3 linked regions of the Homo sapiens genome follow. The protein of the gene in region 3 interacts with the protein of the main gene of each other region in a biochemical or structural test. Each region holds a gene or a part of one and is shown on either strand. Other genes may lie near its edges.

Region 1 (7,034 bases), on a different chromosome or scaffold from region 3:
GATGGCAACGTCGGTCTGAACAGCCTGCTCCAGCATTTCTCGGGGAAGAAGCTGAGGATGCGGTTGGTCCCAGGGATCGAAAGGCCTGCTGACACGCCCTCAGCTTCGCCAGCCACCAAAACCCTGGACAGACCTGCAAGGAAGCACAGGACAGTGGTGGAGTCAGCTGCTCTGTCACAGAGCAGTCACAGGCTCTGCTGCTCTGCCTGTGTGCAAAGGTCAGGACTCAGATTTTTTATTATTATTTTTTTGATACAGAGTCTCACTCTATTGCCCAGGCTGGAGTGCAGTGGCGTGATCTCAGCTCACTGCAACCTCTGTCTCTCGGGCTCAAGTGCTTCTTTTGCCTCAGCCTCAGTGGCTGGGATTACAGGCATGCACCACCACGCCTGGCTAATTCTTGTGTGTTTATCTATATATGTATATATATATATTTTTAGTAGAGATGGGGTTTCACCATGTTGGCCAGGCTGGTCTCGAACTCCTGACCTCAAATATCTGCCCACCTTGGCCTGCCAAAGTGCTGGGATTACAGGTGTGAGCCACCGTGCTTGGCCAGTATATATATTTTTTTCTTTTGATATAGGGTCTGGCTGTCACCCAGGCTAGACGGTAGTGGTACCATCTTGGCTCACTGCAGCCTCAACCTCCCAGGCTCAAGTGATCCTCCCGCCTCAGCTTCTGGAGTAGCTGGGACCACAGGCATAAGCCAGCATGCACGGCTAATTTTTTTAATTTTTAGTAGAGATGGGGTCTCACTCTGTTGCCCAGGCTGGTCTTGACTCCTGGGCTCAAGCAATCCTCCCACCTCAGCCTCCCAAAGTGCTGGGATTATAGGCGTGAACCACCCACCTGGCTAAGACTGAATTTTAACGCCATGAAATTTTACACAGAAGCACAGAGGGTGGATCAACACATGAGACCTGGTGATGGCCCAGAGCCCAGGGGTTAGCATGCAGCTTCTGAGAAACCTCCAGGGAAGTCAGGAGCAGCATCTCCTCAGCGCTGCCCTCAGGCCCAGCTCACTGGCAGGCGTGCTCTTTTCTCTTTGAACCACGCCTCTTAAGAAGGCGAGGCCTGGCACCTCCTGCCATATTGCTACAGAGAAGAGCAAGTCCACAAAACCCAAACCCTGCTGCTGAACCCCCACACTTCCAGGACAAACTCTAAAAACAGGAAAAAACGAAAAGAAAATGCACAAATCCAGCAAGATCCACACACTTCCAACCTTATTTAATGCTTTTAATTAAGGTGAGACTCAAAAAGGGGGATACTTACGAGTTATTTGACCCAAAGCTGAACCCTGAAAAGCAGAATAAGAGTGAAGTTAAAGCACGCATCCACTCGAAAGACAAAGGTGGTCCCCATGCTAAGTGTCTGCCCTCCTCTGTGCTTCTTGTGGGAAGCCCTCCGTGCCTCCACCACCTACAGGAAGGCAGGAAAGGTACACACAGAAGCCCCTTTATTCTGAGTTTGTCCTCTGGAGCTACTCAGATCCCCCAGAAGGCAGAAAAAATCCTTTACTTTTTATGAGTTATCTTCTTGGTATTTTAGGGTTCTTCCTCCCTCCTCGGCCCCAGCTGTAGGCAGAGGGTCTCTGGCTTGGCCTCTCAGCTGTACTGGACCACATAGATCCATTCATTAGGAAAACCTTTTTTTTTTTTTTTTTTTTTTGCTGTTGTTGTTTTTCCATCCATTTGCTTCCTCTTCTTTTTGGGGGCCAGAGAAGCAAGATGGCTGGATTCTAGGCCTGGTTCTACTGCTAACTGCTAACACTTAGTTCCTTGGAGTTTCTGTTTCTTCACGGGTACAATTGTAATGATACCTAAATTCTGTGCCTTGTCAGTTTACTGCAAGAACAAAATGGAAGACACATATTCTGCCATCTGAAGAAGCAGAGTGTTAAACAAATGCAAGATGTTTTGTGAAGTTTCTATGCCTTTTTTTTTTTTTTTGAGTCTGCTGGCTTAGATTTTTTAAACCAAGGCCTAGTAAGACCATTATTATTTTGGGCTTCTCAAATCCTGAGAGGAAATCAAGACAGTAATTTCTTTGGTAAGAAATGACACAGTGTTCTAAGTCTAACTAAAACCTAAAAAAAAATATATATGCCAGGTGCTGTAATCCCAGCACTCTGGGAGGCCGAGGTGGGTGGATCATGAGGTCAGGAGATGGAGACCATCCTGGCTAACACAGTGAAACCCCATCTCTACTAAAAACACAAAAAATTAGCCGGGCCTGGTGGCGGGCGCCTGTAGACCCAGCTACTCAAAGGCTGAGGCAGGAGAATGGCGTGAACCCGGGAGGCGGAGTTTATAGTGAGCCGAGATTGTGCCACTGCACTCCATCCTGGGCAACAGAGCGAGACTCCGTCTCAAAAATATATATATATATATATGTTTCAACCACTTTCAGTATGTTACATATTTATTTATTTTGAGACAGGGTCTCATTCTGTCACCCAGGCTGGAGTGCAGTGGTGCAATCACAGCTCACTGCAGCGCTCAAGTGATCCTCCTGCTTCAGCCTCCCGAGTAGCTGGGACCACAGGTGTGTGCCACCATGTCTGGCGAATTTTAACATTTTTTGTAGAGAATGGAGTCTTGCCATGTTGCCCAGGCTAGTCTCAAACTCCTGGGCTCAAGTGATCCTCCTGCCTTGGTCTCCCAAAGTGCTGGGATTACAGGCGTGAACCACGTGCCCAGTCAGCTTTTAAAATACTAAACAGACTGGTCAGGTAAAACATACTCATTTCTTTGGGGGAGAAGGCAAGAGGGACCCATTTTGCTTGTGAGGGGAGAACTTGTGGCAGCTTACCTCCTGTGCCTGATCCAAAACCAGAGAATCCGCTACTCTGGGTCCCAAAACCAGAAGTCTGTTGGGACAGTGATCCGAAAGTGGGGGCATTCTGACTCGCGAGCGTGCCGAAGGATGTGGTGTTGCTGCTGCTCCCAAACCTGCGCTCCAGTGAGAAACAGACTGAGGTCAGTGGGGCCTCTCACCACTTGCCCATCTGCAAGCCTCAGCCCCCTGCTGTAAGTCCCAATACACACGACACTCATGATCCAGGGTGACAGGCTGGGCCTAACTAGCAGCCTTTCAGAGAGAATGAGCTATCGCCCAGGGCCAACTTTTATCTCTGCTCTAGGAAGAAAAATGGCAGGACTACAGTATGAAATCCAACCTGGCCAGTGTTTTAGTTTCCATCCCCCATTGGAACACCAGGGCATTTGGGAACTATGCAGTACACAGTTCCTGCTCTACCTCCAACAATCCTTAAGCTTTATTCTATCATTTTAGCATTTCTCACTTACCGACCATTCCCCCACATCCTGCTCCCATTTATTTATCTTCAGCTCCTCTTGGGATCTTGATTCTATTTACTTTTTCCAAGTCATTTCATTCAGGATTTTGTATTTGCTTCCTGAATCAATAATTACTACCCAAACCAATGTAAAAGTGGCCACTATTTTCCTTCCCCTGCTCGCCCCACCTGGAGACAATCCCCTGTGCCCCCTCACTCAGTTCTCCCTCCAGATATGGTCCAGCACACAAGGTGGCACTGTGTGACCTATCAGAGCCCCTTGAATTGTTTGCAGAGGAACTCGGCTGGGTTGGGGAGAGCTTCTGGGGTCTGGAGGTGACTAGGTGAGGGAAACGGATCAGTGGTTTCTGGGAGAAGGGGCAGCACCTGGGGGCAAGAATCAACCCCAAAGCAAGAAAAAGTATCTAAAACTCTGCCTTCCCACCATTCTATTCACTTTTAATGGTGAGGTCAAGGCTCTTTCCATACAAAGGTGGCCAAGGGATCTGCTCTCATTGGACTTTCTCCCAGGAGCGGCCTGCTCCCTTCCTCCTCCTGCCTTGGGCCTCATCAGCAACAGCCTGCCCTTCAGGGTCGGAGACAGGCTCATGGCCAGGGACCTGGAAGAAGGTAATGGGCTCTTATGGAGATTTAATAACTGACCTGGCATTAACCTTTTTTAGGACTGACTAACCAGCCAATCGGGATTTGTGTGAGAGCCGCCCCAAGGCAGAATATACTTTTCTACTAGTAAAGAAAACAGCTGGTTTCAAATAAATAAATCAATTCACAAGATACCCAGCCAACCCAAACCTTCTACCAACTCTGTGGTACTGTGTGCTGGTTCATCACTGCAGAGAACAGCATCCATTAAGACCTCTGAGAATACCAGCCTAAGTGGGTCTCTAACTGTCCTTTCAAAGCTTTCCTTAACTTTAATTCTTGGGGTTTCCTGAGGGCAAACCTAAGGCATCAGTCTCCCGTGAAACAGGAGAAGCAGCACGCCAACCCTCTCACTCCTGCTGCTGCGCTCCAGCATCTTGCACGGAGGGGAAGGGTGTGAGTAAGAACATACTATAGTTTATTTTCAAGATAAAGATGCTGTCATCTTGCCAAGACTCAGATCCAAGTATCTCAACAATTCCCCTAGACAAAATCATCTCCCCTCCCCCAAACCTTCAGCTCATGCTGAGCCCAGTACTGCGGCAAGAGGCGTTTTAGAACTCCTTTCAGGCATCGACACCTCCTTTGAACAAGAGACTTGGTAGTCATCCCGTGTACATTTTTTAAATTGGGATGTTGTGGTGTGGTGAAGGTTTTTTTCCCTTGGGGTTTTGGCAACCACACTGAAATTCTGCCCTTAAAAGCGACTCCCTAAAAATGGCCTTTTCCAGTGCAGACGCACACGAGGCAATGAGAGCAGCTTCGAAATCCCTGATCATCCAGGATCTTCCCACGGGAGGACCTGTGCAACTGAATACTCACTCTGGGGGGCTGCAGGGGAGCAGGGGACACAGGGAGTTGTTTGTTCAAGGACAACGGGTCTAACACAGAATAATCCCAAGAGGAAAGAATCTGGTGAAAACCATTCATTGAGGACTTCCTAACAGAAGCTCCACACCGGGGCACCTCTTGGCTACAAAGCAGTAGTTAAGGCAGGGCTGGTGCCTTCCTTTAGCCCCAGCAGGAGAACAGGGGCTCTGATGACCAGCATTTCTCATACCAGGGAACAGCAACACAGCTGAGGTCCACCATGAATTCAACAAAGCCTGGCTTGAACGAAATGAGTCTTACCCTGGAGAGGTACAGGAATCCTTGAGGGAGTTGTTCACAAATTTCAAGGGAGGGGCCTTCACCTCATGGTCAAATTTCTTTTCAGAGCAAGAGTACAGGCCCCTAGTGCTTTTTGGCTGGCGTGTGGGTTCCCAAGGGCCCTCCCCAGGGGGCTTACCCGAATCCTCCTGCGCTGGCAGCTGCAGTGCCCTCTCCGAACACTTTGCCTCCCGTCGAGCCCAGAGGGCTTGTAAAGGCTGGGGCTGAACCGAATGCTGGCACCCCTCCAAACCCAGGGGATCCCCCAAAAGTAGGAGGGCTGCCAAACACTGGAGCAGCACCGAAGCCACCTGAGCAAAACAGAGGCAAACAAACAGAAATAGGGAGAAAGAAAGGAGGAGACAGGAAGAGAAGACATTGAGCAATGAGAAACCAAATCAAAATAGGAAGAAAAAAGGGAAAAGAGGATGTTAGCAATTCAAATGCAAGAACTAGAGTAAAGGGCAACACCCCCCCTCCCCCCCGCCCTTCTATCAAGAAAATAGTAATGAAAACAACAAAACAAAAGCCCTCAAACCAAACCACTCCCCTCCATTCCTAGCAGAGGGCTCTGGGGTCCACTCAGGAGAGCTCCTGCAGACCCTGTGAAGTCACTGTGAAGCCGTGTGAGCAGACCTCCAAGAGCCCACTCGGTGCACCTTCCACCCCTCCCAGGTCCTCTGAGCTGTTTGGAGTGAAAAACCATTCTCAAAAACTCCAATCCCTACCTAGCTGACAAAAGATGACAGACTATATTACTTATCAGTACACAGGCAAGACATCCAGCTTCATAGAAACCCAAATTATAAAATCAGAGGCTCAAAACCTCCTCTCAGGGAGAATCCCTGAATTGGGTCATAGCAGAGACAGAGACGTGTATGCTGGCGCCCAGCCAGGTGCTTTTTATTTATTTACAGCCTGATGGCTCCTACGTCTCTCATCAGAGTCTCCCTTTCTCTCGCTCAGTGGAGGTTTGTTTTTTTTTTTTTAAATGCTTTTTTCCTGCAGTCTGGAATTACTTCCCAATGAAAAAACACACCAAATTTCTTCTTTGGAGGCAGGCTGCTGCATAAATCTAATAAAATAATAAGTCAACAGTGAGGACAGCCCTAGAGTTCAGATGCCTTCTGCAACGTTGCCAACACTGCTGCCCAGTGGGCTCAGGCTGCCAGAGGGCAGCACCACACAGGTGGCCACACAGACAAGGGTCAGGTCACGCACAGGGCACCCTACTCTGATTGCTGGTGATGCCTGTCAGGCAGGAAGACAAAACATCCTCTCCTGAGCTATTCCTGATGCGGGTTCCCAAACTTCCAAGATACTGCTGAAATCATTCTAAAGTATTAGAATAGACACTCAGTGAGTGTCTTCTTGAATGAATGGAATAGAATGGCATAAGAAATGTGCTCTAACTGGGAGCACCCTCTAAAGGGAGTACTTCTTAAGGTGAGTGTTGGCCTATGAACTGCGTGCTAGCGGGAGTAATGGTGGCCTAGCGACAAGCCTTTTCTCCCCTTTCAGAAAGTCAATCTGTTGTTAGAGGGATGAAATCCAGACTTCTTATTGTTTATGTAATCACAACACAAGCTTCTGCCATCTGAATCAGGAAAGATCAAATCCTGGGTATGAAAAGTTGTCAGCTGAATCCCTCAGTTAACTGTTATTTTGTGATTCACTCATGTGCCTATTTGCCATTAACAGTGGTAGGCTGCACAACTGAGAAGATACTTTTTTGCTAAGGCTCGTGTTTGGGTTAACATTCCGCATGTTAAAACACTGAGTGAAATTCCAAGCCATGATAATGGAGACTGTTGGGTTATAAATATAACAGACTGGAAAAAAAAAAGTGCTAAAAAACCCTTACAGTTGAATTATTTAAGACTGATCACAGATCTAGTTACACTTTCTTCCTAGACAT
Region 2 (7,034 bases), about 59 Mb from region 3:
ATCCCAGCACTTTGGAAGGCTGAGGCAGGCGGATCACCTGAGGTCAGGAGTTCGAGACCAGCCTGGCCAACATGACGAAACGGCATCTCTACTAAATATACAAAAGTTAGCCGAGTGTGGTGGCACGTTACCTGTAATCCCAGCTACTCAGGAGGCTGAGGCAGGAGAATCGCTTGAACCCAGGAGGCAAACGTTGTAGTGAGCCAAGATTATGCCACTGCACTCCATCCTGGGGTACAGAGCGAGACTGTCTCGAAAACAAAAACAAAAACAAAACAAAAAACAAAAAAAAAGGGGGGGAGTAGTAAAGCAAAAGCTTTTAGTAACCTAAAAGGCAGTACCTTTACCAGAGGTTTAGCCTTACAGTCAAAATAAACAGGAAGAAAGTGGAGTTTATGAATCAACAGCCCTAAGAATCTGACTCTGGCATGCCTTAAGATCCTCTCCTACTACATGTTGGTGTCCTGGTGAGCATAACCTTTTTTTAATGATTCATAATAAGTTCATACAAGATCAATCCCAAAGATAAATTCTCACTGTACAAATGCACAAAGACCATAAATAGTACCAGACGGAGGCTGGATGTGGTGGCTCACGCCTCTAATCCCAGCACTTTGGGAGGCTGAGGCAGGAGGGCTGCTTGACGCCAGGAGTTTGAGACCAGCCTGGTCAACATACAGACCCCATCTCTATTTAAAAAATAAAAAGAAAAGAAAACAGGAAGCTACCAGGCTAAATGTGTAGTGACAGTGGAATGCAACAAGCCCTTTATATAGCTTACTGATTCTGGCTTTTCCTGTGATTTGTTCCTTATAATCCCAAAAGTGGCAAAACTCTTCAAAATAAATCCAGTCGATGGCTCCAATTAGTTGGCTTTGGATAAATTAGGTTCCAACAATCAAGGTTTGAATAAGGATCTGATCATATTAGATTAAGCTGAACTATGCCATCCTGTATTCTTATCAAGACTTTATGGCCAGGCACGGTGGCTCATGCCTGTAATCCCAGCACTTGGGAGGCCAAAGTGGGTGGATCACTGGAAGTCACGAGTTTGAGACCACCCTGGCCAACATGGCGAAACCCTGTCTCTACTAAAAATAAAAAAAAAGACAACTAGCTGGGCATGGTGGCAGGCACCTGTAATCCCAGCTACTCAGGAGGCTGAGGCAGGAGAATCGCTTGAACCCAGGAAGTAAAGGTTGCAGTGAGCTGAGATCGTTCCACTGCACTCCAGCAGTCTGGTAAACACACAGACAGACTCTGTCTTAAAAAAAAAAAAAAAAAAAAAAAAAGATTTATATCTAGGCAGTCATTAAGTACTTGCTGAATTGCCTCATTAGTGAAAGGGAACTTAAAGAAGTAAATATATGCATATAAATTCCTTTTAAAAAGCCAGTGAGTACCTCAACCCAGAAATTCAACTTCTATATATTTATTTGAATGAATTGATATAGAACATATTTTATAGCAATTCAGAGTACTGTTTATAGTTTTAAAAAAAGTCTCAATGTGAAGGAAGAAATTTACTACTATGGTACATTTATACATAAAAGAATGCTAAGAAGTATTTGATAATTATCTGTATTACAGGGCATTTGTAATGTGCCACATGAAAAGAACAGAATATAATACACAGCAGGATATCACCTTTGAAAAGTTCACAAGCATATGTCACAGTGTCTGGACATATTTGTATGTATTACAAAGTAAAGAATTAAGTACAAATTGCACATTAAAATGTTTGCAGTGAGTAGTAGTCACAGGATTTGGGTGATTTTGATTGATAGCTTATCTATGCTTTCTAGTTTTATTACAAATGTAATATAAAATTTAAATTTTAATCAAGTAAACAATGTTTAAGGTCCTAAAAAAAGAATTAGAAGACATAGTTCGGCTGGGTGCAGTGGCTCACACCTGTAATTCCAGCACTTTGGGAGGCCAAGGTGGGTGGATCACCTGAGGTCAGGAGTTCGAGACCAGCCTGACCAACATGGTGAAACCCTGTCTCTACTAAAATACAAAAATTAGCCAGGTGTGGTAGCAGGCACCTGTAATCTCAGCTACTTGGGAGGCTGAGGCAAGAGAATCGCTTGAACCCAGGAGGAGGAGGTTGCAGTGAGCCGAGATCGCACCATTGTACTCCAGCCTGGGCAACAAGAGTGAAACTGTCTCAAAAAAAAAAAAAAAAAAAAAAAAAAGTCATGGTTCCTATTCTATAGGAATAGGTGGGTGTGATCTACCCACCTTGGCCTCCCACAGTGCTGGAATTACAGGCATGAGCCACTGAGCCCAGCCGCACTATGTCTTCTAATTCTCTGTTTAGGACCTTAAACATTGTTTACTTGATTAAAAGTTAAATTTTATGTTATATTACATATTCCACGGGAACCAGCAATCTTTCTGGGAAGTCCGCAATTAATACTCATAGGCTAGAAGCCAAAGGGAAATGCACAATTAGCGGGGAGCGGTAGGAGGCAGTGAGTAGGAAGGCGACAGAGGCGCAGAGAAGGACCATATGCCTTCCCCACCTGACTGCTGGGCCAGAGAGCAGGCCTCACTGATCCTTTTGCCTGTGAGGTAGCTGAATACAGCCTCCACAGGGCTGTTTTTTTGGGTTAAGGAGACTTCCTCTTCAATCTGAGGTGTGGCAGTACAGGATAGCCAGCGGGAGAAAGCTCTTCTTCGCTCCAGAATTTGAATGTATTCACGGGGTTCATTTAGCTGGCTGTCAAGCTCCTTCAGGTGGCCCCATAGGGCTTCACATAGTGTCCATGTCAGGCTCCAGTGCTTCACAACTAAGGCAGGAAGAGAAAAACAATGTTACGAGACAAAGTCTTACAACAACTTCACAGAGGGCATCCTTCTAACTGTGATGTTAAAAATACATAAATTAATAGACATCTCAAACAACCACTCAAGCTGATTACCCTGAATCTGTCTCTACCTCACTCAACTTCGTCTTACAATTTCCAGAAGTACATAGTATAAATAAATGCTTGCTCATATCATGTTTCTGTGGTACTTACATAACAAATGTAACCGTTAAACAGGTTCCCCAAGCCTAATTATGGCTAGTGTCATCTCAGATGATATCTACTTTGATCAAATTCTGTCTATAAAAATCAATCTACAAAAGTACTGTTTATCATTTAAGCCACTTACAAGTATGCACTGGTAAAATAACTTACACATTTGAAAAGACAATGAGACGATTAAGTAAATACAAAGAACTGAAGGAACATAAACAAATCTCAAAACGTGTGGCATAGGACATTCTAAAACAGCCCATTTTTCAATAAACGTGATTTGCTAAACAAAATGATTTTTCTACTGTTTGAAATATTAATAAATTAGATAACCCCTTTATCAAAGTATTGATTCAGAAAAACATGGTCATGATAGATGAGAAAGGTAATCTTGAAAGAAGCCAGGAAGAGGAATTACAACAAAGCTGTTGAGAAGACCAACAGTACTTGAGCTGGATATGGAAGAATGGATAGGATTTAGAAAAGCAAGAAGGGGCCGGGCTCGATGGCTCACGCCTGTAATCCCAGCACTTTGGAAAGTCGAGGCAGGCAGATCACGAGGTCAAGAGATCGAGACAATCCTGGCCAATATGGTGAAACCCTGTCTCTACTAAGAATACAAAAATTAGCTGGGTGTGGTGGCGCGCGCCTATACTCCCAGCTACAGTGACAGAGTGAGACTCCGTCTCAAAAAAAAAAAAAAAAAAAAAGTAAAGCAAGAAGGAATGTATTTCTCTCCCTATGTTCTCTGGATTAGGTAAGAAATTCAATTTTATAAATCCAAGGATTTGACTTGCTACAGTTCTTTGTGGAAGAATTTGTACATTAATGGGTAAAAGAACAAAGTGACAAGAACATAGTGACAATTTCTTCTTGCTTGGGAATCTGCTTAGTTAAACTCAACCTCAGAAAATGACAAGCACAGGCATTTACCTACTAGACTGGTGCCAGGAAATTCATCCTCCCGTGAACATACGCTACCACCACTATTATTGGGACATCAAACATTAGAAACATAGTGTGTACTCACTTTGTGCTTCTGGTAAGTCTCCTGATGCTTCTTTAACCCAATCTGCATAGTCATGAATGACAGCAACTCCCAGATTGGGGACAATGAGAGGACACAGTTCATCCACATGGACAGTGCTGTGTTTTAATTTGAGCTCCAGAGGTGTCTGATATAATTTCATGTCTTCATCTGGCTTTCTTTGTCTCAAACTGAGTTTTTCTAAGTGAACTTTGAATGGGGACTCAGTTAGGCTACAAGAGCAAATGAGGAATAGAATAGAAAATGAACCTAAGACAGAAGCTAGGATTTTTACTTCAACCAAACCACTGTTTCTTTTTATGATTACAAACGGAATGCAAACATTTCACTGTAGTTTTAAAGAAATTTTGTTTCTTAAACTATACTGAACTTATCTGCTATATACTGGGGAAAAAAAATCATCTGATCAGTGCATTCAGAACACAAAGGCTTCTTAGGCCAGGTTATAACAAGCATGAGAATCCTAACAGATTTAGAACTGGCTAAAACTCAAGGGCCAAAAGCTATTGTGGGATACCTGTTTCTCAAATTATACTTGGGTATCAAAAGTCATGAGGCTAAGCTTCTAGATACTAAAGAACTGATTCTAAATTACAATGAGCATATAGCTAAGCTAGGCTTGTTCCAATTTTTTTTTTTTTTTTTTTTTTGAGATGGAGTTTCACACTGTCGCTGAGGTTGGAATGCAGTAGCGTGATCTTGGCTTACTGCAACCTCTGCCTCCTGGGTTCAAGGGCGATTCTCCTGCCTCAGTCTCCTGAGTAGCTGGGATTACAAACATGCACCACCACCCTGGGCTAATTTTTGTAATTTTAGTAGAGACAGGGTTTTACCATGTTGGCCAGGCTGGTCTCGAACTCCTGACCTCAAGTGATCCTCCCAAAGTGCTGGGATGACAGGTGTGAGCCACCGTACCCGGCCCCTTGATCTAATTTTTAAGATTGATATTAATAACCTTCAAAATTCACAAGATAATGCTTAACCTAGAATAACTAAGTTTAGGATCAGTATTCTTAATTGTGAGGTTCAAGAGACATTGTTGTTTTTTCTTTTTCTTTTCTCTCTTTTTTTTTTTTGAGACTGAGTCTCATTCAGTTGCCCAGGCTAGAGTGCAATGGCGCGATCTCAGCTCACTGCAAGCTCCGCCTCCCGGGTTCACACCATTCTCCTGCCTCAGCCTCCTGACTAGCTGGGTCTACAGGCGCCTGCCACAACGCCCAGCTAATTTTTTTTGTATTTTTAGTAGAGACAGAGTTTCACCGTGTTAGCCAGGATGGTCTCAATCTCCTGACCTCGTGATCCGCCCATCTTGGCCTCCCAAAGTGCTGGGATTACAGGTTGTTTTTTATTTTTTCAAAGTCAACTTTAAAAATGAAGGATAGGCTGGGCAAGGTGGCTCATGACTGTAATCCCAGCACTTTGGGAGGCCAAGGTAGGACAATCACTTGAGCTCAGGAAACATTAGCTGGGTGTGGTGGCGTGTGCATGTAATCCCAGCTTATCAGGAGGCTGAGGCAGGAGAAGAGCCTCAGACTGAGAGGCAGAGGTTGCAGCAAGCTGAGATCGTGCCACCGCACCCCAGCCTGGGAAACAGAGCAAAACTGAGACTCAAAAACACACACACACACACCGGGGAAACAGAGCAAAACTGAGACACACACACACACACACACACACACACACACACTCTCTCTCTCTCTCTCTCTCTCTCTCTCTCTCTCTCTCTCTCTCTCTCTCTCTCTAGAAAGATGACAAAGCAGGGCCCTATCCTCCTGATTAGTTTTTTTCACCTATCATGTTGCCTTTCTCAAAAAGCATCAAGAAATGTGACTCACGGTTTAACAGCTACTGGATTGGGCAGGAATCCAAACTCCATGGAATCGGCAATCTGATGATTTTCTAGTTCATGAGAGCCATTCAGCTGTTCTCCACTATTAGCAAGAGTCCAGTTGGGGCCCCAACCAACACGAAATGAGCGTCCCATGAATAGGGCCATGTCCATCAAGAGTTTTCCCTTGCCATAGGTGACAGACTTTTCACGAGGGACTAGGCCTAGTTGCCTACGTGTACCCACTGTTTTCAACGGAACCTCAGGGGCTGGGCTGGGCATTGTGAACACAGAAGTCAGGGGTGGAGGGACAGACCAAGAGGATGTGGATGGGATATTCATTAAAGATGCTGCTCTGGGAGTACGACATTCTTGCACAGAGACACTTGGTGAAAGAAAAGCTCCACTTGTAAATTTTGATTGTAGTAACCCACCAACTGAAATGAAGCGGGAATGAAGGGGAGAAAGACTATTACAAAACACAAGCTATTGTTTCTTGAACAATAACAAAAATCAGTAAGGCTGAAATCATTCAATGTTTAATCAAACTACTTATATCAGATGTGGATGACCAGAAGCAGGCTAAGTCAGATTTTGCAGAAATTACTCTTTGAACTAGGAAATCAGGACAAGATTCTAATGATGATGATGATATCTACAACAATAATAAAAGCAACAACACTATTAATATTATTTAAAAATATGCAGCAGGCTCTGTATAAGTCATTTGTATATGTTATTTCATTTCACTCTTCAAAAACTTTTTTTTTTTTTTTTTGGAGACAGAGTCTCGCCCTGTAGCCCAGGCTAGAGTGCAGTGGCATGATCTTGGCTCACTGCAACCTCTGCCTCCTGGGTTCAAGCAATTCTCTGCCTCAGCCTCCCGAGTAGCTGGGATTACAGGTGCCCGCCACCATGCCTGGCTAACTTTTCTGTATTTTTAGTAGAGACAGAGTTTCACCATGTTGGCCAGGCTGGTCTTGAACTCCTGACCTCGTGATCCACCTGCCTCAGCCTCCTAGAGTGCTGCAATTACAGGCATGAGCCACTGCACTTGGCCTCAAAAACTTTTAAATGATTAGCATTATTATCATTCCTATTGTATATATGAGAAAACTGAGCTCAGATAAGT
Region 3 (3,845 bases):
TAGGGAAGGTCGTGTCCCGCCACCCCACGTTGTCACAGTGGGAAGCCAGCCCACGTCTTACCGATGGCGCCGCAGCCGACGGCCAGACCGTAGCGCCAGAGCGCGGAGCGCAGGTCGAAGGGGCCACGATTTGGGACCTCCGCATCCAGAGGCTGCACCGGAACCGGGGGCCGGGACACGGCTGCCACAGCCATGGAAGCCCAGAAGACGCCCTGGCCCGCGCAGAACAGCCCGAGGATGGTGAAGAAGCGGCCCCGATCATGCTCAAAGAGCAGCACATCCCGTTGCAGCGTCGTGCCTTGCAGGGGCCGGCAGGTGAGCAGGGGCCGCAGCACGGCTAGCAGCCCCGTGGGCCATCGCCTCCAAGGCGCCGCCATGGCCAGCCGACTTCCGGGGTGGGGCTTCCTGCCGCAGAGCCGCCTTCCGCCCTCCCTGGGCGCCCCCGCTAGAGGGCCCGCCCCCCTCGCTCAGGGCTGGGAGGAGACAACCAATCCAGCACGCAGAACACGAAATACAACATCACTCTTTATATTAAAAAGTGCAGAACACGAAATACAACATCACTCTTTATATTAAAAAGTAAGGAGGTCCTGGGGTTAAGTACACAAAGCACCTAAGTCCTTCGGGTAGTTTAGTGTCAGTTCTACAAAGTAAGCTTTGGCTTCCTGGCACCAGTGAGGCTCAATCTTCTGAAGTCTTCCAGAAGGCAGGCGAGGAGAGGGATCAGGCAGCCCTCCCTCCCTCGGTCACAGTCACGGGGCGGCCTCGGGCCAGACAGGAGGAGATGACAGACGACAACCAGACGGTAATATCCAAGGACTATTTACAGGGGGGACTGCTTCTGAGGCATGACTACGATCACTTCATGAATGCCACTTCTGGGATCTCGCCCTTGGCCTGGAGAAAAATGAAGGTCAGTAGAGGTAGGCCTACCCTCGCCACTCAGCAACCCCACTCAGCTAACCTGACCTCCTGGAGGCCCAGAGATCCTAGTCTTTTTGCCACTGTATTTCCAGACCTTACCTTGAGATGAGTGAAGGCCTGGGCAGATCTGGTGTAGTCCCAGTTGTTGTCCTGAAGGCACCTGGAGTGGAAGAACAGGCAGCTCTGTAAGAACTCTGACTCGTAAATGCCAGCTGAAAGTCCACTCCATAAAAGCACCCAAGTTTGCCAACAAATATGTACATTCTTATACATCCTTGCACTATTTATACAAATGAGACATTAGTAAAAGTCCAGATGTTCTACCAATGGCTTCTCAAAGATAAGGAATATTAAATAGCTGTCAAGAAGCTCAAGATAGTTTTTACAGTGGTAGGGAAAGATGTTCATGGTGTAAGTAAAGAAACTAAGTTGCAGAACAGTATATGAAAAGGAACTTCCATTTTACCTTTAAAGTTTTTTATGTTAATTTATACACAGGCAAATTTTTTATAGACTATCAGGTTTGTGTTTTTCTGTTTGCTTTTTTTTTTTTTTTGAGACCGAGTCTTGCTCTGTCACCAGGCTGGAGTGCAGTGGCGTGATCTCGGCTCACTGCAACCTCCGCCTTCCAGGTTCAAGCAATTCTCCTGCCTCAGCCTCCCGAGTAGTTGGGACTACAGGCGTGGAACGCCAAGCCCCGCTAATTTTTGTATTTTTAGTAGAGACGAGATTTCACCATGTTGTCCAGGATGGTCTTGATCTCTTGACCTCGTGATCTGGCCGCCTCAGCCTCCCAAAGTGCTGGGATTACAGGTGTGAGCCACCTCTCCCAGCCAACTATTAGGTTTTTTTAAGCAGCCAAAAGTTTTGCCTTTTAAAATTTCAGGAGCCCAGGCACAGTAACTCACACCTATAACCGCAGCACTTTGGGAGGCCTAGGTGGGCAACATGGTGAAACCCCATCTCTGCAAAGAAATACAAAAAAATTAGCCAGGTGCTGTGGCCTATGCCTGTAGTCCCAGCTACTCAGGTGGCTGAGGTGGGAGAATCACCTGAGCCCTAGCAGTTGAGGCTGCAGTGAACTGTGATCACACCACTGTACTCCAGCCTGGGCATCAGAGTGAGACCCTGTCTCAAAACAAACAAGCAAATAAAAATTTGGCTGGGTGCAGTGCCTCATGCCTGTAATCCCAGCACTTTGGGAGGCCGAGGTAGGCAGATCACAAGGTCAGGAGTTCGAGACCAGCCTGGCCAACATGATGAAAGCCCGTCTCTACTAAAAAAAAAAAAAAAAAAAAAAAATACAAAAATTAGCCAGGCATGGTGGTGTGTGCCTGTAATCCCAGCTACTCGGGAGGCTGAGATTGGAGAATTGCTTGAACCCGGGAGGCAGAGGTTACAATGAGCCAAGATCGCACCACTGCACTCCAGCCTGGGCAACATAGCAAGACTCCACCTCCAAAAAAAAAAAATAATAAAATAAAATAAGGTGGCACATGCCTATAGGCCCAGCTACTCTGGAGGCTGAGGTGGGAGGACAGCTTGTGCCCAGGAATTAGAGGCTACAGTGAGTTATGATCACCACTATACTCCAGCCTGGATGACAGCGCAAGAACTTGTCTCCAAAAAAAAAACAAAAAAACTGTCAGGAGCCCTCATTATTTACTACTAGCCCTACTTCAGTGCATCCCCATCCTACACATGCCCCGCACTCACTTCTGGGACCACTCGAGGTTCATGCCAGACTGGGTAGAGAATGCTTGCAACATTTCCTGCTGCTCTGGAGAGAGGGTGGGCACCGGGCTGGAGGAAGGCGTGGGTGCAGGCATAGCGAAGGCTCTTTGGATCTCTTCAGAACTGGCATTCCGCACAAATAGCTCATCATTTACAATACATAGCCTTGAGGACAAAGAGCACTTAAAAAGCTAGACAGAGATAACATCATCCTCCCAACATCATTCCTATTCTCTGATTCTTTCAATATCCACAAGGTCCCCCTCCCACTCTTAGCTATTGTTACCTTTTATCATTTATCCCCTCCCATGGAATCAATGTTTGGAAGGATTATCTACTAAACACACTAGGGTTCTCCCAACGCATGGACTTTAGCTCTTTTAATTCATCCTCACAACAAACTTAGGAAATGAATATTGTTATATGAATTTTCAGATGAGGCAGCAGCCTACTTGCTAGAAGTGGTGGAGCCAGGATGAAAACCCAGACGGTACAATTCCAGAGCCAAGCTATTAACTGGCTCTTAACTACTATGTGAGCTTTCTCTGATTTCCTGTTGCCTTTCTGAAATCACCCCAAAGACTGACTCTACCCTCCAATTACCACACTGTTGGCCATGGATTAGGACTGGTATCCAATGCGAAAAGCAGAATACTTACCCTGAATTGCTAGCAGGAACAGCAATGAATGTCCGGGTGAAGGCTCGCAAAGAATCCCGGGACTTTCCGTCCACTGCAATAAGAACAGCAACAACACCTTAGGGTCACTAGTGCTTTATGTTTACAAACAGCTTCTTGAATCATGGTCTTTGATATAAAGAATCCTAGCAAGTCAGAGAGGAATGATTAAGTATATAAGGGTATAAGGGAAGCACAGGTGGGGTGAAGGGTCAGGTCAGAAAGGACAATAGTAATAACTACGGCCGGGCACAGTGTCTCATGCGTATAATCCCAGCACTTTGGGAGGCTGAGGTGGGCAGATCACGAGGTCAAGAGATCGAGACCATCCTGTCCAACATGGCGAAACCCCTTCTCTACTAAAAATACAAAAATTAGCTGGGCGTGGTAGTGCGCACCTGTAGTCCCAGCTACTCGGGAGGCTGAAGCAGGAGAACCACTTGAACCCAGGAGACGGAGGTTGCAGTGAGCCAAGATTGCGCCACTGCACTCCAGCCTGGTGATAGAGTG

Evidence for each region. The genes of interacting proteins can lie anywhere in the genome.
Region 1: the proteins of NXF1 (region 3) and NUP214 form a complex in vitro, tested with the Homo sapiens proteins (4 studies listed by BioGRID and IntAct).
Region 2: the proteins of NXF1 (region 3) and NUP98 form a complex in vitro, tested with the Homo sapiens proteins (5 studies listed by BioGRID and IntAct).

What each region holds. Positions count from the first base shown.
Region 1 is NC_000009.12:131,226,553-131,233,586, reverse strand, and holds part of NUP214 (nuclear pore complex protein Nup214), read right to left. Parts: intron 5,428-7,034; coding exon 5,256-5,427; intron 2,958-5,255; coding exon 2,818-2,957; intron 1,304-2,817; coding exon 1,279-1,303; intron 134-1,278; coding exon 100-133; 3' UTR 1-99. UniProt on the Homo sapiens protein: Part of the nuclear pore complex. Has a critical role in nucleocytoplasmic transport.
Region 2 is NC_000011.10:3,696,554-3,703,587, forward strand, and holds part of NUP98 (nuclear pore complex protein Nup98-Nup96 isoform 1 precursor), read right to left. Parts: intron 6,340-7,034; coding exon 5,910-6,339; intron 4,287-5,909; coding exon 4,057-4,286; intron 2,796-4,056; coding exon 2,529-2,795; intron 1-2,528. UniProt on the Homo sapiens protein: Plays a role in the nuclear pore complex (NPC) assembly and/or maintenance. NUP98 and NUP96 are involved in the bidirectional transport across the NPC. May anchor NUP153 and TPR to the NPC.
Region 3 is NC_000011.10:62,791,618-62,795,462, forward strand, and holds the end of NXF1 (nuclear RNA export factor 1), read right to left. Parts: intron 3,391-3,845; coding exon 3,318-3,390; intron 2,824-3,317; coding exon 2,641-2,823; intron 1,155-2,640; exon of another isoform or gene 1,085-1,154; coding exon 1,024-1,084; intron 898-1,023; coding exon 859-897; 3' UTR 513-858; downstream 1-512. Other genes in the region: TMEM223 (transmembrane protein 223), read right to left, coding at 62-377.